5 separate regions of the Homo sapiens genome follow, and regions 2, 3, 4 and 5 are each linked to region 1. Evidence: fine-mapped expression QTL. A gene starts in region 1. Each other region holds a variant in brackets. All regions are shown on one strand. Distances are from middle to middle. Region 1 holds the start of ARHGEF7 (Rho guanine nucleotide exchange factor 7). Region 2 overlaps ARHGEF7 (Rho guanine nucleotide exchange factor 7). Region 3 overlaps ARHGEF7 (Rho guanine nucleotide exchange factor 7). Region 4 overlaps ARHGEF7 (Rho guanine nucleotide exchange factor 7). Region 5 overlaps ARHGEF7 (Rho guanine nucleotide exchange factor 7).

Region 1 (5,101 bases):
GACACGCCGTGAACGTCCTCTCTGCTCCCTCCACCCTCTTCCTAACTCTGAAACAGAACAAATGAGCGTAATGGAAGAAACACATTAGGGCATGGTTTCTTAATAAAAGACATATGGGAAGCCCGAGGCACCCAGCCACGTTTTAGTTCTGCCCTCATCCCCAGCCTCATGGCCCATGCCAGGTTGTGAGCCTGCAGAGGCGAAGGCTGCAGGCCACTTGCCCTCCGCTCACTGGCTGTCAGGGCACTCCTGCAGCAGAGGTCAAGCGAAGCCCCTGTCATGTCCACATGAACATTCAGTTAAGTTTCCAAATGCTTCTTTTTAAGGAAAAAACATCCTCAGACTCACATTCCCACATTTAAGTAAAAGTTATTCAGCATGTGTGCTTTGTGGCATAGATTATCTGGTAAGCATGAAAACACCAAAAACCCAGATAACTGGCTGGGCGTGGTGGCTCACGCCTGTAATCCCAGCACTTTGGGAGGCCTAGATGGGACAATCCCTTGAGGCCCGGAGTTCAAGACCAGCCTGGCCAACATAGCAAGAACCCATCTCGAAGGAAGGAAGGAAGGAGAAAGAAAGAGAGAGAGAGACAGAGAGAGAGAGAGAAAGAAAGAAAGAGAAAAAGAAAAGAAAGAAAGAAACCCAGATAACTCTGCCTAGCAAATGGAAAAAGCTCACAAAACTTCTGAAACACAGGGATCTCAGAGGCAGAAAACGGCTAATATTTTACTCCAAAAACCTACCTTTGAACTCCAGAGAACCAGTAACTGTGTCTACAATACGCTGCCTTCACATTAAACTTTCATTGTGACAGAGTCAGTTTAACACAAACCAACTGGAGCTCAGGGGGAATCAAAAACAGCTCTGACCTAAGAAATTTCCAGATGACTGTAGTTTTAGAATATGTTGAGTTGTTTCAACTTGGCTTCTGCAAGCTCAACATTTTATTCGTTCTTCTCTTTGTTGTTTTAGAGATGAAATGAACGCTACGGTTTTCTAGGAAAATCTTTCTATAATTTAAAAGAAAATGATTATTGAAGTCGGCCAATCAATATTAATACAGTTAATATGCCAAACAACATATTCTTTGATGGCGACATGTTTTTATCAATACAGCATATGACACTTCTTAAAGCTTTGCTCTTAGGGATGGAACAGAATTTTATTTAAGCCTATTTTGGTGAACTTTGCATGCATTTCAACACTTTTCAACATCTGTCTTTCATTACCAGAGGTACCAGTATCCAAACAGCAAAGTATTTTGAATGCCTTGAAAGTCAGCTCCTGCTCCTCAGTCCTCCTGTCTTAAATCATAATTTCACTGTGACATCAGGTTCATTTTTAAGGAACATTTTTATTTCATGGACAGGCAGGCAGCCATTCACTCTAATATGCAGATTCTGTTTTCATAAAGATGTTCCAAGTAAGAAAAATAGCTAAAAGTGGAATGCAAGCCAAATTCATATTAAATAAAATGTTTTCTGACCTCATTTAAAATGTAGCAAGAGAATATGTACATGTGAATGAAAAAAATTAAACATTTTACTTTTTCAAGTCACTTACGTGGCATTTTATTTACAAGTTGTTGTCATCCTGTATGGGGGCCAATACACCCCACTTAAAAACTGAAATCCTTCTTCCTAATTATGGTACACTTCAATTTCTATATTTAACACCTTTTAAATAACTGTTGATCTTAACGCTATATATTGGCCACCCCCACCCCCACCCCACCCCCCGAAGAAACACCCTGGGAATAAGATTTTAGTATTTTGAGCTACAGGGAGACATCGTTTTTAGAAACTCTCCTGCCTCCTCGGCCCTGCTGGCCGGCTTGTGGGCGATGAAAACAAACTTTAATCACTTCCAGAGATTCGGGTCAGGGTTCACACGCTCCAGCCTGGGAACCACCAGCCGGAAGGGAGAAGCAGTGCCTGCAGGACTAAAGGTTCTGTTCAGAACGAGGGAGGGACCTGAGAACGAAATCTAGAATTTTAACAAGCCTTGAAGAGTGCCAGGACTTAGACCCTGTGTCTGCCGTCCTCTCGGCTCGGATAGGTGGGGAATTTTCTCGAGGGGAAAGTAGTAGATCGTTTCACAGCGCAGCCCTCAGCTACAGATGCGTGCCTCTTTAAAAATACAGAGCAACCGGTCAATTAACCTGGGAGGCGAAACTCACGCAACGCCACCGGCAAGAACTGTCCACACAAAGCCAGCGGAGTGAGCCGCACCGCGTCGGAACGCGGTTTCCGATGCGGCTGCTGCCAGGGAGCGGGGCCGGCCCCCCACGCGGAGGGGCAACTTAGCGTTCGGGCGGCGCAGAAGCCCCGTCTCCTCGCTGCGGTGCACTCTCCTTCCCGGGGACCCCCGCCGCCCGCGCCGCCCCTCCCCCCGACCCCGCTCCCCGGCCCCCTCCCCCTGCCCCGCACACAATGGCGCCCCCCGAGCTCCCGCCACGGTCCTGGCGCCGGCCGCGCCGCCGCTCCGCGCACAAAGGAGGGCGCACGGGTTTCCCGAGCGCGGCCGGCCTCAGGTGCTCCGCGCGCATCCCGGGCCGCAGCGGGCCGGACCGGGGGGCGCGGGCGGGGGCGCGGGCCGGGACTTACTTTCTCGATGGTCCCGGGGAGCAGGCGCTCCAGCAGCCTGCAGAGGACCACCCCATCCTTCAGCGACGCCTGCAGAAAGCCCTCCGGGTCCGAGATGGTTTTTTTGGGCGACTCCAGCACCCCCAGAGTGATGAGCCACGTAACGGTTTGCTCGGCGGAATTCATCGCTGCGGCCCGGGAGGCAGGCGGGGAGGGGCGCGCGCCTTCACCTCGGAGCGGCGGCCCGGCCCGCGGCCCCCGCCGCCGCCGCCGCCGCCTCGCCCATCGAGCGGCCGGCGCCGGCGATTGGCTCGGCGCGGCCCAGCAGGTCCGGCCCGGCCCGCTTCTCCGTGCGCCCCGGCCCGCTGTCAGGCGCCTTCTCAGGAGCGGCTCGGGAACCTGCGGGCGCCCGCCGCCGCCCCCCGGCCTCGGCCGCCGTCGCCCAATGACATCACCGCCAGGAGAAGAAAGACGCGGCCGTCCGCCCGGCCCGCGCCCGGCCCGCGCCGCCCCGCGCCCTGCGCAGCCTCCGCTCCAGGCCGTGCGCGGGGCGGCGGCGGCGGCTGGGAGCGGGCGGGGAAGGGAAAGGGGAAGGGGAGCGGGGAGCGGATGGGGAGGGAGCCGGGGGTGGGGGCGGGCGCGCACCTGCGCTTACCTGCCCCGGGCCCGCCGTGCGCCCCGCGCCCCTGGCCGGGGCACTCGGAAGCCTTTGTTTATGTTTTGAATTCGTGAGCGTTGAAATGATGAAGTACTTCCCAGAATGCTCTTTTTATTTTTGCCGGTTTTATTTCAAGGTGGCGGGGACAGGCTGAAAACGAGACGTTTGTTTCGCTTTGCTACCTTGCAAGCCGGTCATGACGGAACAGAAATGATGGTTCCATCTGAAGCCATATGGGTCTGAATCGGGAGGAACCGACTCTCCGGAGCGCGGCGCCGACCTCACCGGCAGGGCAGGGGCCTGCGCGACTCTGCTCTAGACGGACGGTGACGCTTCAGACCCTGCCGGGGGAAGGTCAAGGAAACGGCGTGGCCTGAAGTGGGGCTGTGCAGAGGGCCGGGCCGGGCCGGGCCGGGCGCCTGGCTGCGTCTCGGGGACGCCGAAGATCTGGGCTGTGAAAGCAGCAGGCCGAACCTGGAGAGCCCAGACGGCAAGTGTCGCGTCATGCGCGAGCTTCCTCGAACAACTGATGACACGCACACATTGACATGCGAGGAAGAAATGGAGCCTCTTCTTAAAAGGACACGAGTCTCCACTCACTCCATCCACTGTCCCTGGGCGCTCCCCCAGTTTGCTCGCTATGACCCGCGGGCAGTTTAACAAGCAAAGCACTTAGTCTATGCCAGGCACATACATTAATCCATTCAATGACAAAGGCTAGAAAGCATATAAAGCTTCCAAAAATAATCAGAGGCTTAAGTCGTCTCCCCCTGCCTTCTGCCGGTGGATTTCTCTTGCAATCACTAATTGCTTTTATTTCTAGCCTTGAGTTAAGTGGTTAAAATTTTCTTTGCAAATACAAAAAATATTCAAATGGCAGTATGAATTCTGGATTACGAGGACAATGTGCTCAGTGATAACAGCGACTGGTTAGGAACCGTCACAAAGTGCTGTCTACTGCCTCGCCTCCCATCATGGTCCCCTTTTACTGATCAGATGCCGAACAAGTGGCAGAGATAAGACCCAAAGCTCGGCTCCTACCAGGAAAGGCATACCTAACCCGTTTCCTACTGCTGCCCTATAAGCTTTCTAGGAAACAGGAGGGCAATTAACAGCTACATCAAGGCTTGTACCCAGTGTCTTCGTGGAAGGAAAGATGTCAACCCGGGGCGTGGTTGTACACCGAGACTTCTGTTCACTTTCCTTACTGCTGAATTAGAGAAATAATTTAATGCAGTCCTTACCATTTCGAATCCTACTAAATTCGGTTTGATACTTATAAGGTGGTAGACTTGAGTAAGATTCAAATAGACTCAATTAAATGGTCCTATAGAAAGCCAATTCTAGGGAGTGACCTTACGAGACCAGTGAAGCAGAGAGCCAATTCTTGTCGGACTGGAGACCCACAGTCCAGGTATTACAACTCGTCTTTTCTTGGTGGGGAGAAGCCCAGACTTTTAAACACTTTATGGTTACTAGTTGCGTTCTTTTATGTTGGGTATTTATTAATTTCAGAAAAAGAGTTTACTTGGAAGGGATTTTAGAAAGTAACATTGCTCAAAGCTAGATATTTTTAGGTGCTTAATTGAGTTGTTTTAGTATCCAAAGTGGGCATTTTGGTTAAACTTTCCTTAGCACTTTTCCAGGTTCCTATTACAGAGGCCACGCGGAGTGCAATCTGGTGCCCATCACTTTTGGGCTATTGGGTTAGCTCGAGTTAAGACTATTGTCTAAGGGGAAGTTTAGCCCTTTCTGTGGCTCTCCTCTGGACTTGCCTCAAGAGGTGGAGAATGGCTTTCCACGCAAGCCTGTGGCTTCGCTTCCTTCGTTTCTAATGAGAGAATGTCAGCCTCAC
Region 2 (5,101 bases), 180 kb before region 1:
CACAGATAAAGAGCACAATTATAGAGATTTTTTTCAAGATCTTATACCACTATATACACATTACTGTGTTTTGGCAATTTTATGCAAAACACAATTAATATAGCTTATTATATACTTGTGGCAAGCGTTATTTCAAAGGGAACACCATTTAGGCCATTTGCAAAGGCCTGGTGATGGCTTAAACCTACCTTCTAGTTCAGACTCTTCATCCTTTCATTAGAATACTAACTGTACAAATAAATATTACAGAATTGTATGAACAGAAGATTCTATTATCAGCATGACTGAAGTCCCACAAAAGTAGAAACAATGGCCCTCTGGATGCCACATCGCCACTGCCACAGGAGAACTGTCTTTTCAGGCTTGTGGCACTAATACTTCTTAACCAGATCACAAAAGCTAATGGTGTTAGACATTCAAAACAAATGCAAAGAAAAGGTCAGGTTATTCTTCTGCAGTGATCTTAGCATCAAGAAAAAGCATCATCAAAATGCCTTTAACTGGTACAAAATGGAATGATGGTAAACCGTCAAAACTTTGGTGTATAGAATATCAATGAAAATGTCCCAGTAAGATAACCAAATGATACTTGGTATTAAAGGAAAATCCAAGTGCAGCAACTGTGTTTGAGTGTTGTGGTCTACACAGCCCATGACACAGGCAACCCACGCCTACGAGAAGGCAAAGGCAGCTTAGCCAGTGCGCTAATGAGTAGTCTCGAGGCAAACAAAAAAGTGCTCCCTGACGCAGAGGACTACCGTATGTAATACAAAACCAAAATCGCTTCTAAATCCACTTATAGTAAGTATAGAAACTTTGTAGTTATCTTATTTCTCCAAAAATCCCATTTACTATCTGGCTGAACATACATAAACCCCATCTCTGCCGGAGATTAACACTGGGCTCTGACTGCTCCTCAATGTTCTTATTTTTACTAATTGGTATGAAAATACAAAATCTTCCAATGGTGTGAGCAGTTCAGTAGCTACTTGGGAACAAATATTTGGAATTAACAGCTGCCCTGATGTCTCCTGTGCCATTAGCTTGTTCCATGCTGAATGAAGCCACCCAACTTTCTAAACAACGTGCTACTGCCAGGAGCTCCCTGGCAGCTCTGGGCTTGTGAGCAGCAGGACCCGGCTCCCAGGACAAGACTGATACTGCATCAGAGTTCACTCTGCACAAACAAGATCAGAACACTGAATACGTGGGTTTGGCGAAGGAGTGGGCAGTGGGGAAGAAAGAAATCACGGCCACCTGGAATTACAGCCACCCTGAAGAAGGAAAAAATGTTATTCTCAATTTACTATGGCATCTTGTTTTCTGAAGCTGGTTTCAATGAATACTTAAAACACAACCGTAAGGTTCCATTTTAACACCAAATAGAGCGTGCATGGGACAGAACACAATTTGGCCCCTCAAGCAATGACTAGGTGTGGATTTGATGCTACAACTGAATGCAACAGGTCACATTCAGTGCTTTTTGAAGCAGAAATTGGTCTGAGTGAGGCCAGTGAAAACTCCTTACAACAAATCCCAGGAAAACGGGTGAGTTTTTTTTTTTTTTTTTTAAATAAGTGAGCCACATGGCAACCTAGTAATTCTTCAATGAACTTCAATATCCCATTACAATGAGGCATTGTGGTTTTATACTATGGGGTTGCTGTAAATGGAGTTTCACTGCAGCTGGTTGCTGAAAATAATGATGTGTCCATGGCTCTTCCAGACAACATAAGTATGGATGTCAGGGGTGGGGAGCCGGGGGAACTGAAGCCACAGCACTTGACTTTGTAAGTATTCCAAATGCCTCTACTACAGTCCAGTAGTCTACACTTGCAGAGGCTGAATGCTTCAGCTTTCGGGCTTTAAACTGTTAGTGTAGAGATTTTACTGTAGAGTGGTACAGGCTTGCTATGTGCCTTATAACAGAAATCACTGCAATTCAGGGAAGTTTGGGGTGAAGATGCGAGTGAACATCTGAGCCATGACAGTAAGCTCTGCCTTTGGAAAGGAGAGCTCCCACTTCACGGCCACAACGCAGCACACAGAAGAGCACAGAGCCGTGAGGTGGAGACAAGCTCTGAACACACGTGACGCCCGCCCGTCTGTGCACCTGCCAAGGCCCAGAGCCCACATGCTGTTCTGCACGATTACCAGAACACAGCCGTTGGAACTGGGCTCACAGCACCTTTGCTGCATATATTCTTCTCATCTCTCCACAACTACTTGATCAGTGTTCATAGCACTTAAAAAATTTAGGTCCCTACAGATAAGGCCAGAGTCTCCTCCATGGTTCTGGCACTTAGATCACAAACCTGTGTGATTTCAGTATAAAATAGAAAAGTGTTCATACAGCTGTATCCAGAAAGAAATCAAACAGTTGCTACACTGAGAATAAAAAAACCATTTGGAGCTATAAAACAACAACTACCCCTTACGAAGAGCACCCTCGGATGTAGGCTCACGTGAACACACCACCTCCCTCCAA[T/C]AGTCAGTCATTCGAATGTATACTCGCATCGGCAGTTAAGCCTCCACAAAGTACAATGGGAAATATCAGGAACACTCTCAAAAGTTGTTAAAATATCACATAAAAGAGACAAGGAACAGCAAGAAAACATCTAAGAAAAGCAGGCTGCGATACAACAAGCATTTGTTAAGAAAAGCTCAGAAGTGCATTAGTTCTGGTGAGAGATATATGAGCAACAGCTCTTACGAGATGTAGAACCCATTCTGTAACTATGGGCTGTCCATATACTGTCATAGTCAGAGTCTTCCGAGAGGTCTGAAGGCTCCAAACGAGAAAGGCTACTGCGACGCCCCAGGGAGTCTAGGCTTGGTTGGTCATCATCAGCCAAGACGTGATTATGCATCAGGTCAGTGCCTTGCCATGCTAAGACGGGCGGGCGGAGGGACAGGCGCGACAGGCAGGGGGTGAGGAGGAGAACGACAGGAAGAGCCACAACCAAAACATGGAACAAAAGCAAAAGGTGATGGGAAGAGAAGGAAAAGAGAAAATAGTGTTAAAAATTGGCAACAATGCATATTTTTCCTTATATACGGCTGGGTTTCACAATAACGAACTTAGCAAAACCCTTAGAATAAAACTAGATCGATTATTATCTAATTAAACCTAATATACAATGTTTCAAACTGCTTTTTTAAAAAAAGATATTGCTCTAAAGCCCTCATTTAAGAAATCTTTTACAAATCACACCCATGTCCAAAAGATTATTCTATAGACATGTGGCAATTAATCAATTCTATTCCACATTCAATTAACAAATAGTCTCATTTAGGACATCATTTGGGAAAGGTGCCATTTATGTGGCTAATTAAAAATTGTTTCCTATCAATAAACAGATGTATCAAATGCAAAATAATTTCAAAGGAATTCTGACGGGCTTTTTCAGCTGGCTCTTTGCCAAGACCATAAACCTGAGAGTGGGTCTGGACTTACCTGATCAATCAATAACCACTGTGAGAACTCAGAGGGCAGAAAAGGATTGGGCAGGGCCCACAGCCCCAGAACCCACCCCCTGCTCCCAGGGCGCGCTGGAGCTTAGCCCGCAGGCAGGGTGCAGTGGGAAGCTGGGTCTGCTGGCAACACCGGCCACCCCAATGCAGACCCTCTGCTGTCAGGAAGAGAGACATGAACTGGCAACGTCCCAGTGTTAAAAGGAGAATGACAGAGGAAGTGGCACAACATGTCAGGAGAGAAATAATCACGAGTGGCTGGCAACTATGAGCACTGCCCATGGCCAGGCACCTGGGCTGAGAGGCAGGCTGGGCCGCCAGGGTCTCCCTCCATGCAGAGGCGGGGATGCCCCTCGCTAGGTGAAGGCAAATCACAGTAGCCCTGGCCCCTCCCTACTCCTGCTTCTATCAAATTGACCTCTGTTCTCAGACTGCGAGAACTACATCATAACAGACTGTGAGGGCCGTTACTTCCTGGAGTTAGAAATCAATACCAAGGAAGTTTGGTTTACAAAATCTTCTTGGCATCCAAATGTGTGTATTGAACAGAGCTGCATTTTAGGTAAAATATATTATCCTTCTAAAACCCGTTTTACTAAGCATTTAATGTAAAAAGAGCTGCTTTCACTATGATCCCATTTCCAGACACCTTGAGTAAGTATACCACCTTTCCAGCACAAGCGAGCAATTTCTCCTATTACTCCCTAGTTTTGAGTGTTAGGTTTAAAGGGCATATATGACTGCAAGCTCCCTGAAGCCCCAGAGTGGTTTGCCCATAATATGAATTAAAAACAAAAATCAATGTATCGTTCAATGCTTTTCTTGCACAGGAGAAATGGAAGTACAGAATACAGGCAATGTGACAAGAAAAGAAAAGGAATTGTGGGCCATTCCCCTTAGGCAGCCAGGGGCCGTGAAGCCGCAGCGTATCACAGGACCCTGGTCATGAAGAAATGTGGTGGGCACTATGACACATACAAAGCTCAGCCCTCAGTCGGCCCTCACCCACAGGGGATTGGTTCCAGGACTCCCCTTGGACACCAAAATCCTCAGACGCTCCAGTCCCTGATATAAGATGGCATGGTGTTTGCATTGTACCTACACACAACCTCCCATATACTTTGAGTCATTTCTAAATTATAGTACCTAATACAATGTAAATGCCATATAAATAGCTGTTATAAGTATAATTATTTTTTATTTGTATTATTTTTTACTGTTATATTGTTACTTTTTATTGTTTCTTTTTTCTGAGTAGTTATCTGCAGTTGGTTGAATTCACAAATGCAGAACTCACAGACACGGTTGGGTGGCCAACTGAACCTGGTCTGTTCATCTAAGACTACTTGGTTAAAATTTTATTTCAAGTAACTGAAATTGAGATGACAAAAAAATCTCAAATTCAAAATCCAAAAATTTATGGCCACATTTTACAGCCTATTACTTAAAACATGATCAATATCAAATTATAAAAATGTAGTACCTTTCATCACAACAATTTGTACTTAGACGTTATTGTGTGATTATACACATATTTATTCCACCTTCTGATGGGTTACCCAGGCCTTTCCGTTTCTCTATTTCTCTCCTATTCTGATAAGCAGTCACTACAAATGGATATTTTTCA
Region 3 (5,101 bases), 89 kb before region 1:
CATCCATAACTTTAGATAAGTGATTTTCTTTTTTTTTCTTTTTCTTTTTTTTTTTTTTTAGATGGAGTCTCGCTCTGTCGCCCAGGCTGGAGTGCAGTGGCGCGATCTCGGCTCACTGCAAGCTCCGCCTCCCGGGTTCACGCCATTCTCCTGCCTCAGCCTCCCGAGTAGCTGGGACTACAGGTGCCCGCCACCACGCCTGGCTAATTTTTTTGTATTTTTAGTTGAGACGGGGTTTCACCGTGTTAGCCAGGATGGTCTCGATCTCCTGACCTCGTGATCCGCCCGCCTCGGCCTCCCAAAGTGCTGGGATTACAGGCATGAGCCACCACACCCGGCTGTGATTTTCTTATTGTTTGTTCATATTAAAAGGATCATTTTTAGATTGTAGAGACAGAGAAGGCATTAAATAATGTGACAATTTTCATTAGTTACATCCATCTTCATAATCCTGCCATTTAAATTTTTGTTTCCTCGATGCTTTCATCTGAACAGTCCTTTAAACCTCAGAAGTCAAGCTGTGAACACGCAGCCACAGCCACACCTCTGCCTGGGGTCTGCCCCTGCTCCCAGGGATGGGGGCCAGTGCCTCTCGCCGGGGCATCAGCATCAGCAGCAGCAGCATCAGCTTCCAGACAGCAGTCAGAGCACACATGCGCTGGGAGGCAGCACCAAGGACAGTCCCTGCACCACCGATGAAGCCTCCGGGAGCCAGGAACTGCAGCCCCAAAGCATGCATAACCCCCGTCTCTCCTCAATGTGCAGTGAGGCAAGTACACCCCCCCCTCTGAAGGGCCAGACGAAGCTGAGAAGCGACCCCGACAAAATCAACTCAGGAGGTTTCTGTTTGAAAAGGACACGGCACTTTCCCCCACAAACCTGATATTTAACATCCGTGAAGGTAAATAGGAAAAAAAAATTACTCTAATAAGACCAAAAAAGCAACTAAAAAGTTCCTTCCTTTTGAGCCACACAGAAATCCAAGAAAGAGCTCCTCAGGGCTCATGGAGCATTTCCTCCGGGGACCTTGGCATCATGGACAACATGCACCTTCCCTCAGAGGACCTGTCTGAACAACTCCTGTCTTCGCTGTGGCCCATGAGAGGGGCACACCATGTCCCCAAAACCTCCTCTCCACTTCAGTACTAATGGGGGCTAGGACCACACACACCATGTACCTGGGTGCCACAGCCCTCAGGAGCCCTGGACAGGTAGTGTGGACTTTACAGGCCAATCCACGAGCCACTCCCTTATCATGGTCACAGCTCAAAACTTCTGCCCACTAGATACAAATTTTAACCAGCATACACTCAGTAAAAACTGAGAGAAAGGTGCTTCTAGCTCCAACACAGCCCATGAGCCTTCCCATAAGAACTAGACACTTTTCTCCTGCTATACGTTCAGGTGAGAAATCTCTCCACCCACAGAAAGGAAAACACCTGATATATACCAGAACATTTAAAGAAGATTCTATTCTAACAAGGCAAATAAAATATCACAGCAAAAGGAACAATCAAAACGTAATGCAACAAAAGCTTATTTTTTAAATTCAGTAATGCTCCCCTGGCTTTGGTAAAACAAGAAAACCAAAGGTGTCAGCCCGTATGTCTTCCCACCCCCTCGAGTTCAATAAAAAAGAGTCTTACCTGCTGTTACTTTATTTAGAGTCACTAAGGAACTGAGGACCTTGTTAAAATTCTGCCCCTGATACAAATCATTTGCATCAAACGTCTGAAAGGAAAAATTAAACAAGCAAAATTAGTAGAGTCTTATGTTGGGTGCAGGATGAACTAAGTTCTCCCAGCAACGCGACGATGCTCAGCCTGAAATCCTAAGGAGACCGCACAACCTGCGACAGGGAGACCAGCACGCTCAGTCTCTCAGTCCTGAGGTAAGAACCCAATCAAAATTCTCCTACTTAGGTGCAGGGTCCCCCCTCGGCATTAGGCCAATTCCCTACCCAACACCCGCCCCTGCCCCTCTGGAGTGTGAGCTCATTCACGGGGGCGGGGCGGGGTGGGGGGGTGGGCTGCTGGCATTCAGCAAGCAAGCACGGTGCTTGCGCAATCCTCCTCTCCTTAGATTAACACAGAGGCCCCAGGCAAGGCGTGCTACAGATGTTCTTTCCTAGCCACAGAAAATAAGGGAAAATGACAGTCGATTCCAAAGCTAACAGCAGCAAAAGAAAATGCGGACATCAGAGAGCAGAGTGGATGTGAGGGTAAAAGGAGGACAGACAGGAGAAGCAGATCCCAGATAGGAAAGGGGCAGGGACAAGAGACCACCACCCTCAGAGC[T/C]CTGAGGCCAGAACCAGGCAAGCCCACAACCGCATCCCCTCCAGTCCAGGGCTATCTAGAGCCCTGGGACCACGATGGAGCTGGTCACATTGCCACTGGCAGGCACTTCCCACCACCATCCTGGAGCTTGGAAAGGTAAAGCACATTGGTTTGCCTAGGTATGTGGCAACTAGTGTCTAGAACGCGTGTGCACACACACAGCCATGTCAAAACAAACAGAGCTCTCATCTCAGATACTGCCCAAAGACTACATATGGCTTCTGATCACCAAATAACCTCAAGCAAAGATAAACAGTCAAATCGTCCACAACTATGTTCCAGAAAAATTAAGAAAAAAATTCTTTCAGAGGTGCCAATAACAGAAAGATACATTTAAAAACCAAAACGTGTATCCTGTTGCCATATGTTCTAACTGAGATTACCGGAAATAAGCATCAGTGGACAAGGGCCCCACCTTCTCTCCAGGGCTGTCGTCTCCTCCTGTCAGTCCTGCCCTCTCCCCACACCTCTAGCAGACCCTGCCAGAAGCCCCACTTCTTCCTCTTCCTGCCTTCGGTCCCTTCCCTTTCCTGGCTAATCCTTATTCATCTTGCTTCCTGACACAGCCCTGCCTTGACAGCCTGGCTGCCCCCACCACACCCGGTCAGGTCCCCAGCCAGGCTCCCCCAGAACACGTGTCATGATAGTTTGATGGTGGATGTCTACAGGCCTCCCTAGACTAAAAATCTGCAGTGGCAGATTGTACATCTCCCAACACCCAGCACAGGGGCCGGTGCACAGTGAAAAGGCATCCGAATGGAGACGTGCACCAGCATCCAACCAGCCACCCACCCTGCAGGCACCGCATGCTGCTGTAATGAAGCTCACGCCAAGAGAAGCTAAGAAAAGTGACACCAAATGTGAAAAAGTCCTGCTGTATTATTCAAAATTCATCTGCAGCTAAAGGCCTTCTGTCTATAATTTTCCAAATAAGTAAAAATAGTCATGAGATGTTTAAACATAAATAAAGAAGAACCAGACTTTGAAAAACTACCTCAAGAGAAAAACCCACCAAATCACTAAAAGAGTCAAGAAAGGAGCTGAAAACCAGAGGTCACTTTCTTAAAGTTCACAAGGAAATATCAGATGGAACCACAAAACGTAAAAGGAAAGCTGTGAACACATCTAAGCATTCTATGTGCTTACCGATGCCATTTCTAACAAAAGGCACAAAATATAACTGATTTCATGAAGCTAAATCCTTCCTTTAAAAAACAGTCCTTAGAACAGATAGTCTTTAGAATCATCTTTCATACAGAATACATTTGTTGTAATATTTATTATTTAAGAAGAAATCCCAACTCAAATGAGAGCAGCATCTAGGCTGACATAACCACCTATAACAAATACGGGTTAAGCTGCATTTTTTAAAAGGAATTAAATAGGCCTCAGCTTCCTTATATGCAAAACATAAAATTTCTCTTCATCATAACATTTTTAAATAGGAGATCTGAATGTCTTTCAGCTCTACAGATCTAATCTTAGTGCTCTGAAAATTCAAGTCATTTTTTATTTTGTCAATTTTGTATACTACAAAAAGAAATACATACATAAATTTCTACTAACCTTCATAGTGGCAAGGCAGCAAGTCACAAAACCCAGAATAACAGGATGTGAAAAATGTGAAGTTTCCTGTTATTCCAGAACTATATATCTTTCTTACTTGGATACCCAGGAAGCATCTGATTGGCTGAAACTGCCCACCAATGGGCTTCAATATGACATCAGAGTTTAAGTGAATACACACACCACACTTCTCAACAGGAAGCTAGACAATGAGATGAGGCAAATCCTTACCCCTGAGAGGGGGAAAATGCACATTCTCAGCCAACAAAATGTTTCGATTGAAGTGCTTCTCTAGAGAAAGATAACAGACTATTTCCTAAAATAGAAATCTATTCAACAAAAAACAGAAACAGAAAAATCTGAGTACAGAGAAATTTTGTACTATGGGAATAATAGGGAAGTCTCAAAACTTTTATAGAAATCTCTCTGCAAAAAGTAAATCAGTGTGTATGTAAGAATTACCATGACATTTAGCACACTAAATTGTTCCCTAGGGTTATTAAAACAAGTGTCTTAGACGGGATTCATTCATTCCCCACCATGACTTGCTGGGTGCTTTAGCAGTATTTCCACTCTTGGCAATGGCAAGGAGCAGCAGGAGGGAAGGAAGTACAAACCATATTCCATTGTCTCCAGGCCTCCTTTTGGAAGCCTCAGCCTCAGGAGCAGCAATTCTCAGCAGGAGCTACATGTTAAGACCTCCTGGGGGGCTGTAAAAGGGCAGGATACTCCAGCAGTGTTCTGGAGTCCAGAGACTCAAATCAAAATGCCAACCCTCTCCAAGTGACTCCAACACACAGCCAAGCGTGAGAAGCGCTCCTGGTGAGGTAAGGAAGGTCATTAGGAATCCTGCCCAGCTGAAGCCTCAATGCCAGCACAGGCACACTTCCTGCCACCTGCACTACCCCACACAGGCACCATGCTGGGGACAAGGGTGGCTGCACAGACACACTTCGCACCATAATACGCTTTAGGATCTATCCATTTGAAAAAGCGTATTTCAAACACTCACCCTTACTTTTACATTTAAGTGAATTAAATGTGCAATAGAATGATCCGATACTCCCAAAATGAAATCATCCTACCAGTTTTCCACCAGAAAACTAACATTAAAATTCCTTAGCTTATTTTTGGTATTTTGCTCTCAATAGAAACTACATAATCAAATACAATACCAAATCAGGGATAAAAGAAGCCCA
Region 4 (5,101 bases), 170 kb before region 1:
TGATTTTCTTGTCAGATAACTGTTTTCTACAAAATTCATGAGTTATATTCAAAATAAAATAAAATAAATGCAAATAAAAATATTTGCAACACATTTGGAAAAACGGCGAACATCCTAACTTTATAATGATTATCCTACCAACCCGTAAGAAAATTAGTATCCCCACTCTCAAACTGAAAAAAGGGCAGGAGATAGGAATAAGGAAGTCACAAAACAAGAAGAGTTCTAAGAAAAAATGTCCAATCTCGCTAAAACAAGAAATGAAAATTAAAACATTTTCGTGTTTCCACACGCCAGCCAGATGAAAACAAAAGGCCGACAACTCTCAGTGTCGACGTGGCCATCCGTGCCTGTCTGTTCCCCACACGGCAGCCCGTGGTCCTGTGAAAACCCGGGCCCATCATCTTGTCTATGGAACCGGACTCTGGCTGCCTGCTGCTCAGGGTGCTGTGCTACCTCCCGCTCTGCCAGGGGAGCTTGGGCCCACACAGCGCACTGTCCCTTGGGCACAGCCTGGGGTTCCTGCTCAGGGTCTCTGCAACCAGGCCTGGAGAGCTCCTCCCCAGACACCTGCTTGGCCTGCTTCCTCAGCCCCAGGAGGCTGCTCAAATGGCGCCCTGGCACCGAATCTCCCACCTGTCCTCCCCACTGGGTCTCTGCAGCACTCCATGGCCCACACATTGTTCACTTGTTTTGTTTCTTGTCTGTATCCTCCTACTAAAACATAGGCTCTATGAGAACAGGGATCTCTTTCGGCCACACTGTATCCTTCCCACCCAGCCCACGAAGGTGCTGATGAAGCACGCGTCCATGAACGATGGTCTCAGCTGCAGCCGGCCCCCGGCCCAGCTCAGTGCTGCCCCTGGATCTGCTGAAGGAAGTGGCCCACAGAACAGCCCTCTCAGAGAGAAGCCCCGGCACAGCCAGTAAGCAACAGAGCAGGCATCCAGCACCAGCTCCACTTCAATCACTAGACCCCAGGGCCTCACCATCTCATCAGGGGCCCTGGTGGTCAGGGACCTGGACTACCTAAGGAGAAGGACAGTCAGGATGGTGACTTATACTGCCATGGACATCAGGTGACAAGGACAAGAAAAGAATGAACACCCCAGCACGGTCACCTCACTGGGCTGATTGATGATAAGGTGGCGGTGAGGGGAGGCCAGCAGTGGCATGGCACAGTGAGCGTGTGGGACGGCTGCTGGGCCTCCTCCTGAGGCTGGAGGAAGTGAGCAGTGAAGGCAAAGGACCAACAAAGGCTGAGCTCAGACACAGGGGCGGGGCAGGGCAGAGCCCTGTAGGACAGATCCTGCAACTTTCCCAGAGCTGGCTCTCTCTCCCTGGGCTGCACCCATCAGTCCACAGCAATCTGTTCACGTGCACCCCTTCCCAGCAGTCACCCCCAGGAAAATCACTTACTTCTGAAAAGAGCTCCACTTATTCAAAAGCTATCTACCGAGCACCTAACAGGTGCCAGGTGCTTGCTGCGAGGCCACATAGGAACCCAGAGCTGAGTCAGACCCCTAGGCCTGAGGAGCAGACAGGACAGGTCCAACAGCAGAGAGACCAGCAAGAGAACAGCACGGGTGGGTGCTACCCACAGGAGAACACAGCAGGTCACGCTTCTAACAGACACAGGGTGCTTTGGGAGATGCTGGCACTTCAGGAAGTGTGGGTGGAATATCTTATAGGCGAGAGGGAGAACCAGAAGAGCAGGAGAGCCCTCCAGGTCCGGCCCCAGCTCCTGGATGAGGAAGGGGCTATAAGGCAGTGGTGCCGGGACTGGCACGGAGGCTTCACCACTGACACAAAGGCGCTTCTCCTGCTTGCTTGGGTAAATGTTACGTGGCTTATTCCTATCACTGCCTCAAGGGGCAGACCTTACTTTTGTTTGGAGTCTTCAGAAAGCCACCAAGCCTCCCTCTATCCCAGGAAAGCCATGGCCTACGTGACCAGGAGGCCACGTCCTCCACCACACGGACCGCAGGTACTCACTTTTCCGGGACGCGAACTCCTCATCTGAAGGCTTCCGTTCAGGTTTGCGCTTGGGCAGCAGCTTTTTCATGGTCTTAGGGCTCTTACTAAGATCCTAGGGAAAGACAAAAGAAAATGCTAACATACTCTAAAGCCAATCATTTTCACTGGCATATCAGAAAGGCTGCTGTAAAGGTATAAAACCCCAAATTATTATAGCCACTGATAAGAGCTTCTCGCCTTTTCCTACTTTGATTTTTCTTTACCAGCTTCTGAACGTTAATTTTTAAAAATCAATAGGGCATTTTCAGTATTAGTCATTGGCTAATTTTTTTTTTTTAATTCTAATAAAACCCCTCGTGTCATTTGGGTCCTGTTAGTCCTGTGATGAGAGGTGTCACCAGGAGGCAGGCTGGCGCTGGTGTGCACAGACATCCTGCACGCTCCTGAGGGAGGAGGAGAGGAGGGGGCAGCTGCTCCCTAGGACAGACCTATCCCCTGGCACAGCTAACTGGAAAGAGAGGAGGAAACTAAGGTTGTCATTAAATGACAGATAAGTAAAAAATAATTGCTTTAAGAAAATATTTGAAGTTTCAGGGAGAAGAAAAGGGAGCGAGTGCTCAGCTACCTGACTCTGAGTGCCAGGAGCACAGCCAAGCTCGGCCAGGGCTGCTGTGCAGGGGCCACATGCACACCAGCTCAGAGTGTTCACAACGGAATGGCCCACCCCTTACCTCTTCAAACAGCTTTTCAAACAAGCACAGAAGACGACGGCAAAAAACAAAGTGAGCAAAGCAAGTCCCAACAGAGCAGGTAAGGTGTCAACTGTCAAGCACGTGTTAAATACCGATATCAAAAAAAGGCTGGTTTCTGCATCACCCCAACGACATAAACCATCACGAATGCTAAACGCGAGACCAAGACTCAGAAGATGAGATGTGCTATGGAATGAACCA[G/A]GCTGGAAACAGAGGAAACAAAGCTTGGTTTTTAAAATTATCTTTAAAAGTCTTTTCTTGGGAGCTAAACAATGGGTACACATGGACATGACCATGGAAATGACAGACCCTGGGGACTCCAAAAGGCGGAAGGTGATGGGGGTGAGTTTTGAAAAGCTACCCATTGGGTACAATGTTTCCTATTTGGGTAATAGGTACCCCAGAAGCCCAAACCCCAGCATCACCCAATACAGCCACGTAACAAACTCTGAATCTAAAATAGCCTTCAAAAAGTTAAACAAAAGTATTTCTATAAAAAATTGGAAAGCTCTTAGAAATGCAGCAGCAATCTGTTCCAGAAGACACATTTATACACATGTGCTCATGGCTTCCCTAATTCGAAGCAAATTGAGATGGAGAGCCTTGAAGAGCCAACGCCCGCCCCTCACGTGCTCCGAGGGCACCTGCAGGCGCAGAGGGTCACAGAGCACACAGCACACCTGAGCCAGAGCCAGGCAGAGCGGGCTGCAGAGCGGCCTCCACGAGCCTCCATGTCCTCTTCTCACACCCTGCAAGATCACTCTCCACGCTACTGCTGGGCGGTGCTCAGCAACACTGGACGGCAGCTGCTCGGTGTGAGCCCTTCTCTCCCAGTGTGGAGTTGGCAAAGCAAATGCAGCCAGACTTATCAAAAAAAATTGTTTATCTTCACTTCAATACCCCTTCCGTTGCCCTTTCTACTTCTTTGCCCAACAGTTTTATCCCAATTTTCTTCCCTAGTAATTCAGTCTCCACCAGTTCTTGTAGTAGCTCACTTTTTCTTTAGACTGTGCACACTAAAGTATACAATAAGGAACAGCAACATTCTTCAAGTAACTTCCCATGATAGAAAATGGAAATTCTGACTTGCACACATGATTACCTGAAAGATATCATAAAAACAAAGACTCAGAACAAAAAATGAAAAGCACAGATCCTAATTTCTCATACAGTACTTTCCTGTGGGCCTTAAAACCCCCAGGGCTGCCGGCAAGAATGTAGAAAAAGTCTGCTCCAGTTCCCTTGGCAAATGTGGCCTTGACCAGACACAGAGGCACAATGCCAGGCAAGAGCGTGTCACCATCCTCACGCTCACTCACACCCCACCAACGGGCACTGCTGCTCACACTGACGCGCACGATACCCACACTCTCACCGCCACTCCTCATACCTCACCACCATGCACGCTCAACTGCTTATGAAAACAACTCTCATCTCAATTATCAGCTTCCTCAGGTGAAAGTACTTCTCAGAACAGATTTCTAAAGACACTTCCTTTCCTCATCCAAGCTGGTTTAGGTAAAAGTGTAAGGAAGTGTTAACACTTCTATTTATTCATTGGAATCGTACTTTATTTGCGCCTAGCAAATATAAAAATGCCGGATGAGAACAGAGACAAGCAAAGACCGCATCATGATTTCTTATGCATCAAAGGGGGAAACCGCCTAAGTGATTGTTTTTCATTTGTATTAGTAAATGTTCTCTTCATCTCAAATGGCTTCTGGATGACAAAATGCAGGGCTCCTGGACAGGATCCCCAACCTAGAGGAGGGGTCGTTAGACGCAGCAGACAGCGTGCAGATGCTGAGCGATGGCCTCACACACAGGGAGTGAAAGCCACCTGGGCTCAGCGCCTTTCCAGCTCCTGGCCCCTGGCGGCACACTCCTCCGGCAAGTGCAGTAAAGGCCCCCCTGTGCATGGCAGAAAGGAGGGGGACCCTGCACATCGCCTTCCCACACAGGTTACCACGGGCCTCTCAGCAGCAGAGCAGATAACCAGAGAACCAAGGCAGACCCCCCCTTCTCAGTTCTCTAGGAGTTAGGGTGCATTTTGCTGTACACAGAAGGCCCAGCACGTGGGCACACCCAGGGCCCGAGGCATGCTCACCGTCATCTGGCTGTTTGAGTGGTCAAGGGACCTCACCTCCTTGTAGCAGAGAGCAGCTGAGGGCCGGAGGGGAGGCGCGGGCCGCAGGCAGCTCAGGCTCCAGGGCTTGGGTGTTTTCGGAGGCTCCAGGGGTCCCCAGTTGATGGTGGTGTGCGGGGTGCCGTGGTGGGAGGGGTGGGGCAGCGTGTGGTAGGCGGGCGTCAGCGGCGCGGGCTTGCTGTCTGCGTGCTTGCTGGACGGAGTGACCGGGTGGGAGGGGAGCTGC
Region 5 (5,101 bases), 190 kb before region 1:
GGCTTCCATGGGAAAGCATCACAATGAAGAGCATGTTTCGGAGTCAACGGCTTCCATGGGAAAGCATCACAATGAAGAGCATGTTTCGGAGTCAACGGCTTCCATGGGAAAGCATCGCAATGAAGAGCATGTTTCGGAATCAATGGCTTCCATGGGAAAGCATCACAATGAAGAGCATGTTTCGGAATCAATGGCTTCCATGGGAAAGCATCACAATGAAGAGCATGTTTCAGAGTCAACGGCTTCCATGGGAAAGCATCACAATGAAGAGCATGTTTTGGAATCAATGGCTTCCATGGGAAAGCATCACAATGAAGAGCATGTTTTGGAATCAATGGCTTCCATGGGAAAGCATCACAATGAAGACCATGTTTTGGAATCAATGGCTTCCATGGGAAAGCATCACAATGAAGAGCATGTTTCAGAGTCCACTGCTTCCATGGGAAAGCATCACAATGAAGAGCATGTTTCAGAGTCAACAGCTTCCATGGGAAAGCATCACAATGAAGAGCATGTTTTGGAATCAATGGCTTCCGTGGGAAAGCATCACAATGAAGAGCATGTTTTGGAATCAATGGCTTCCATGGGAAAGCATCACAACGAAGAGCATGTTTCGGAGTCAACGGCTTCCATGGGAAAGCATCACAACGAAGAGCATGCTTCCCATGCCATCATGGCCCCATTCCTTCTTTGAGAAACTAGAACTGTACAATTGCCAAGGCTGTCATTTCCAAAACACCTTGTAAAAATATGGCAAATTCTATCAAAGTTAAAAATGCACAAACGTTTCCAGAAGTTAATCATTTAGCTGTATGTGCACAGTTGCACAGCTGTATACATAAGGATATTCAGTAGAGCATTTCTGCAATAGCGACTGCCCCCTCCCAAATATCCACTCATAGGTGACAAACTGCAGGGCACTCAATCAGGGGAATATTTATGCAGTGGTCAAAAATGATGAATGGTTCAAACTACATATACCCATATGGAAAGATAAGGTTCAAAGAGGCAACTTAGGAAAGAATATACTTAATGCAATCTCACTTGCTGGGAAAAAAGTTAAAACACAGACACCACACACTGGCATTTGCTCAGAAGAATGAACAGAAGAACCTAAACGCAGAACAGGAGCTACTTCTGGGGAACAGGGTCAGGGCGCTGGGAGGCAGAATACATGCTTTTTACTTTGTATCCTGGTATACTGTTTCTATTTTCCGTATCAACAGGTATTATTTTAACAATTAAAAACTCTGGTACATGCTAGTTTTTAATTAGGAAAATAATACCTGCTTATGGGAAAAATATAAATAGTTCTGCAAGAAAATGAAGTATACATGGCCCAGTATACCTTTAAAAAGTGTACAGTTAAAAAACGGTATACATGGCTCAGGTACATCCTAGTTTTTAATTACTGGTGAGGTATCAAGTACAAATGCCTACCTACTCCACCAGTAAGATGAACAATTCACATTAGGTGTCTTATGCATCGCACGTTCTTGTCACAATGCAAATCAACAGAAATGGGTTTTTGAACGCCTACTTGTTTTAACCTGAAATGACTAAAGTCCTTGAAAGTGTAGATCCTGACTTCTTTTGAGCTCCTACAATAAGCCAGTGGGCTGGGCACTGCGTGTGGCTACCTGACCTCTGGCTGGCTGAAATGACATGCAGCGGAGCTGTAGACACACCTGAGCCAGGTACACGGACCATGGACAGGAGACCCCGCTTGGTCCTCCCGGCCACCCTTCCGGAAGACACCCTCGTTTGCACCACCGCCACACAGGGACACACACGAGCAATTTCCTTTTGTCTTATGACAGCTCCTAAAAGGGACCCCACAGATATCTTCAAGAAAGTTTCGCTTACTTGATCCCACAAAACGGTGTCCTGAGCGCCTTCCAGAATGCAGGTCATTCCTCCAGGCATGGGTGAGGACCTGGGGGCTGTGCCTACCAGCGTGACCTGTTACTTCAGCTTTTGTTCCTAAGACTTCCAGTGTTCTTTCCTTGTCTTTTAAAAAAAAATCTTCAAATTTTCTCAAACTCTAGACTTTAAAGGAAACATGTTATCTTCAGTATCAAAGACAGACAGAATTTTCAAATCTAAAACAGCCCAAAGAAACTGTAAAGCTAACAAGCACACAGAAAACACATCAAAGAAGACGAAGCGACACATTCTGTGACATAAGAAAAATAATCAGTTTAATAATTACAACAGTGTAGCATCAACATTGTAGTAGTCAACACTAGGACA[T/C]TGTCTGTGACATTTAAATTAGGAGTTTCTCCACACTTGTCAACAGGCGCCCTGGGTGTCCCAGAGAAGTGAAGAAATGATTGGCATTAAGGAGTCCACACAACCAGGGCAGGCATTCAAGGTCCCAGACGCCCAGCGCATGTGGACAAGCACAGACGCCACTGAGTGTGAAGGAACGAGCTTCTGATGCTACATTCCAACATCGCTGAAAACTGAAAGTGCTTCACATCTACAGGATAAGAAATGGCTTCATCTCCTCATCCATACAAGGTGAGAGCAAAGGAGTAACCCTCGGGCAAATCGTGGCCCCTTTAAACGTTTATATCAAGTTCCCACCCCCTTGGGAGGTCACACGGTGAAACAGACACAGTTATATACAACAGGGCAGGTTTTTAAAAAGAGTTGCTCTCAGACGCATTTTTCCTGCTCCCTAAAAAGCCGAGGAAGATACTGGATCCACAGAAAGAAAAGGCAATGCCGTAACATGAGGCCCTCATGGCCGCACCGTCCAGGGGAAGGGCTGTTAAAAACACAAGTATTCTTGTGAAATACTTCGATCTGAGCATTAAGGCAGGTCTGCAGGAGATCCGTCCTGGGGACTCGGACAGCAACGCTACCGGCTCCGAGAGGACAGTTAATGTCGCCTCCCGGCAGAGGGGCGGAGAGATCAGACAAGAGTTGTTCCTGAGTTAAAACCTGCTACAACAGCAAACTCCAATAAACTCAAGTTGAATGGTTTCCCACTGCAATGTCTTACGCATCACCAAAAAATAACTTGTAAAACTCAAGCTTACCAAAAAAGAAAGTGTTGATCTTTGCTTGTGCCCGCATGAGTGAATGATCTGCTAAGTTGAGGAAGCTGGCAATTCTAGTGAAAAGTCCAGGTGAGGCCAGGTTCTGCAGCATGGGGCAGGTCCACGCTGAGCCCAGGCAGACAACGTGACCAGTCACGGAAGGAAGCCAAAGGGGCTTGCTGGGCACCAGAGACTGTAATTAGCAAGGGCAAGGAAGAACCGTAAACAGCAACACAACACTCTCCCAAGGTGCCCAGCTCAAAGGCATCAGTACACAAAGGATTCAGGTGCAGTTAAAGGGCAATTTGGCCAATAGACAGAAAATCAGAGAGTCAAATCTGATGCGCAATGAGTTGTTCTGAGACCAGTAATCCACGGTGCTGCAATTTGGGTTTTTAAAGATAGAACACTTGTTCTACGGAAAAGTGTATCTCACTTTAAAACCAACCTTTTCACAGGAAAGGAAACCAAAAGCAAAGTCCCTGTGGTCACCCTTATTTATTGCTGAAGCAGAACGAAAACCTGCTCCACGGGCCGGGCTTCCTGCCCAGGACCGCACAGGCTTTCCAGAGCCAGCCTGGGCCCAGCGAGCCGCGGTGAGGACAGGCTTCGTCTCCTCTGCACTGGAACACAGTGGGGGAAACGTTCCCTGCTTATGCCTATGTTACTTAGTGGAACCTAAGGTGTATATTGCTTTATTCTTGCTGAAGGAGGGGATTTTACTTTCGGTGAGCACTGAAGCCTGCTGGCTACGGCCAATGGTGGAGGAGACCTCGGGATGAGGCTGGCCTGATGACAAAACTCCACCCATCAGTATCAGCCTGCAGCATGGCCTCCATCTGTTTTCATCAGCTGCAGTGACTTATAATAAATAATACATTCTATTTACAGGTTCTAGTAAGATCTCTCTTTGAGGGAAGACAAAACAGTGTATTTTGTTGTTACTGAACTAGCCTATACAGAACCGTCTGTGTCCTCCCAAAACGCAGCAAACTCATCTGAGAATCACAGTACTCAGACAGCGGACAAGAGCAAACACCTCTAGGTGGATGCGGCAGTGCCGTATGGGCCTTCCTTGAGGTCAAGACTGAGTCTGTCAGCCAGCAAGTTGCCCTCAGAAACCCGCAGGTCTGGGACTGTAATGCTGCTTTAAGAGAAGACTTCTGAATGGGACTGAAGTGTATCTCTGCAGGTATAAATAAGGTTATTTAGAAATACCGACATGGGGGGTGCTGCCACAGCACGGTGGAGGCCCTGGTGCTGCGGAACGAACCAGGCATCCACCAGGCTTCTGCTTCCGGTGGATGCGGGCATGGGACTTCTTATTCACGTAGCTGGAAAGGACATTCTAGCATGGGGATTAGCCCGGACAGAACCACCACAGGTATGCATTCAAAATGGGATATTTACAAGAAACATGTATATATAATATTTATATATTCAATTCAAAGTCTGGAAAAACAAGACTTTTAGTCAGTCACTGAACTTATTGCAGAATGAGGTAACTGAGATGTTCACAGAGTGGATTGATGTAGCTCAGGTCCTCAGAGTCAATCCCTCCTGTCTGGATTCATCAGTCATGGTTTGATCGTCTCCATTCGCAGAATAAGCTCCAGCTTTTCTATATACAGAGAGCAAGGTGGCGCCCCACCCAGCCCTGCCCTGTGGTCCTGAGTGCACCCCGACTTGGGTCAGGGGTGCCCAGCTTCACCTCAGAACTGGTCTTCAACAGAAAGAACTGAGGACATCCCTTATAGATTGGTCTCATCCCAGGCAGGATCATTCATGTTCTTCAGGACTTTCCTCACCAGCTTCTCCAGGTCTTTGCGGGCTCTCTGTTCTTCCTCTAGAGATTTCTTCATCTTTTTGTTGTCCTGTAAATTAAGCAGACCACAGGGTGTTCACTATCTTTGGCATCGCGTAGGGCTTCCTTTCCCCAAATGTGTATCCTTGAGGAGCTAAGGCCTCGATTCATGAAATCCCACGTGAGCTGCCTATGGGCTCTGAGGTCGTGGGGATCCACGAAGGTCAAACACCTGGACAGGGTGGCAGCG

The links. PIP is the estimated chance that this variant, and not a neighbour inherited with it, causes the effect. A credible set is the group of variants that fine-mapping cannot tell apart.
Region 2: its variant is the best candidate, but not a certain one, in a credible set for the expression of ARHGEF7 in caudate (GTEx, PIP 0.54).
Region 3: its variant is the best candidate, but not a certain one, in a credible set for the expression of ARHGEF7 in monocytes after LPS (Fairfax 2014, PIP 0.56).
Region 4: its variant is the best candidate, but not a certain one, in a credible set for the expression of ARHGEF7 in caudate (GTEx, PIP 0.62).
Region 5: its variant is the best candidate, but not a certain one, in a credible set for the expression of ARHGEF7 in whole blood (TOPMed, PIP 0.51).

What each region holds. Positions count from the first base shown.
Region 1 is chr13:111,113,200-111,118,300 of GRCh38, reverse strand. It overlaps ARHGEF7 (Rho guanine nucleotide exchange factor 7), which reads right to left and starts at 2,991. Exons shown (of 22, transcript NM_001354046.2): 1 at 2,610-2,991. The coding sequence starts at 2,774. ARHGEF7-AS2 (ARHGEF7 antisense RNA 2) reads left to right here and starts at 2,623. Exons shown (of 2, transcript NR_046667.1): 1 at 2,623-2,754; 2 at 3,383-4,489. RefSeq lists a silencer at 3,029-3,118.
Region 2 is chr13:111,289,907-111,295,007 of GRCh38, reverse strand. It overlaps ARHGEF7 (Rho guanine nucleotide exchange factor 7), which reads right to left. Exons shown (of 22, transcript NM_001354046.2): 19 at 2,714-2,890. Among named protein-coding and RNA genes, the nearest start is that of TEX29, 28 kb to the left of the region's middle. The variant T/C (reference allele first, on the strand shown) is at 2,489.
Region 3 is chr13:111,201,919-111,207,019 of GRCh38, reverse strand. ARHGEF7 (Rho guanine nucleotide exchange factor 7) reads right to left here. Exons shown (of 22, transcript NM_001354046.2): 3 at 1,647-1,731. Among named protein-coding and RNA genes, the nearest start is that of ARHGEF7-AS1, 56 kb to the right of the region's middle. RefSeq lists enhancers at 155-654, 655-1,156, 4,275-4,324. The variant T/C (reference allele first, on the strand shown) is at 2,298.
Region 4 is chr13:111,283,135-111,288,235 of GRCh38, reverse strand. It overlaps ARHGEF7 (Rho guanine nucleotide exchange factor 7), which reads right to left. Exons shown (of 22, transcript NM_001354046.2): 16 at 4,873-5,097; 17 at 1,996-2,089. Among named protein-coding and RNA genes, the nearest start is that of TEX29, 35 kb to the left of the region's middle. The variant G/A (reference allele first, on the strand shown) is at 2,931.
Region 5 is chr13:111,302,811-111,307,911 of GRCh38, reverse strand. ARHGEF7 (Rho guanine nucleotide exchange factor 7) reads right to left here. Exons shown (of 22, transcript NM_001354046.2): 22 at 2,180-4,921. The coding sequence ends at 4,799. Among named protein-coding and RNA genes, the nearest start is that of TEX29, 15 kb to the left of the region's middle. RefSeq lists enhancers at 3,449-3,508, 3,589-3,658. The variant T/C (reference allele first, on the strand shown) is at 2,254.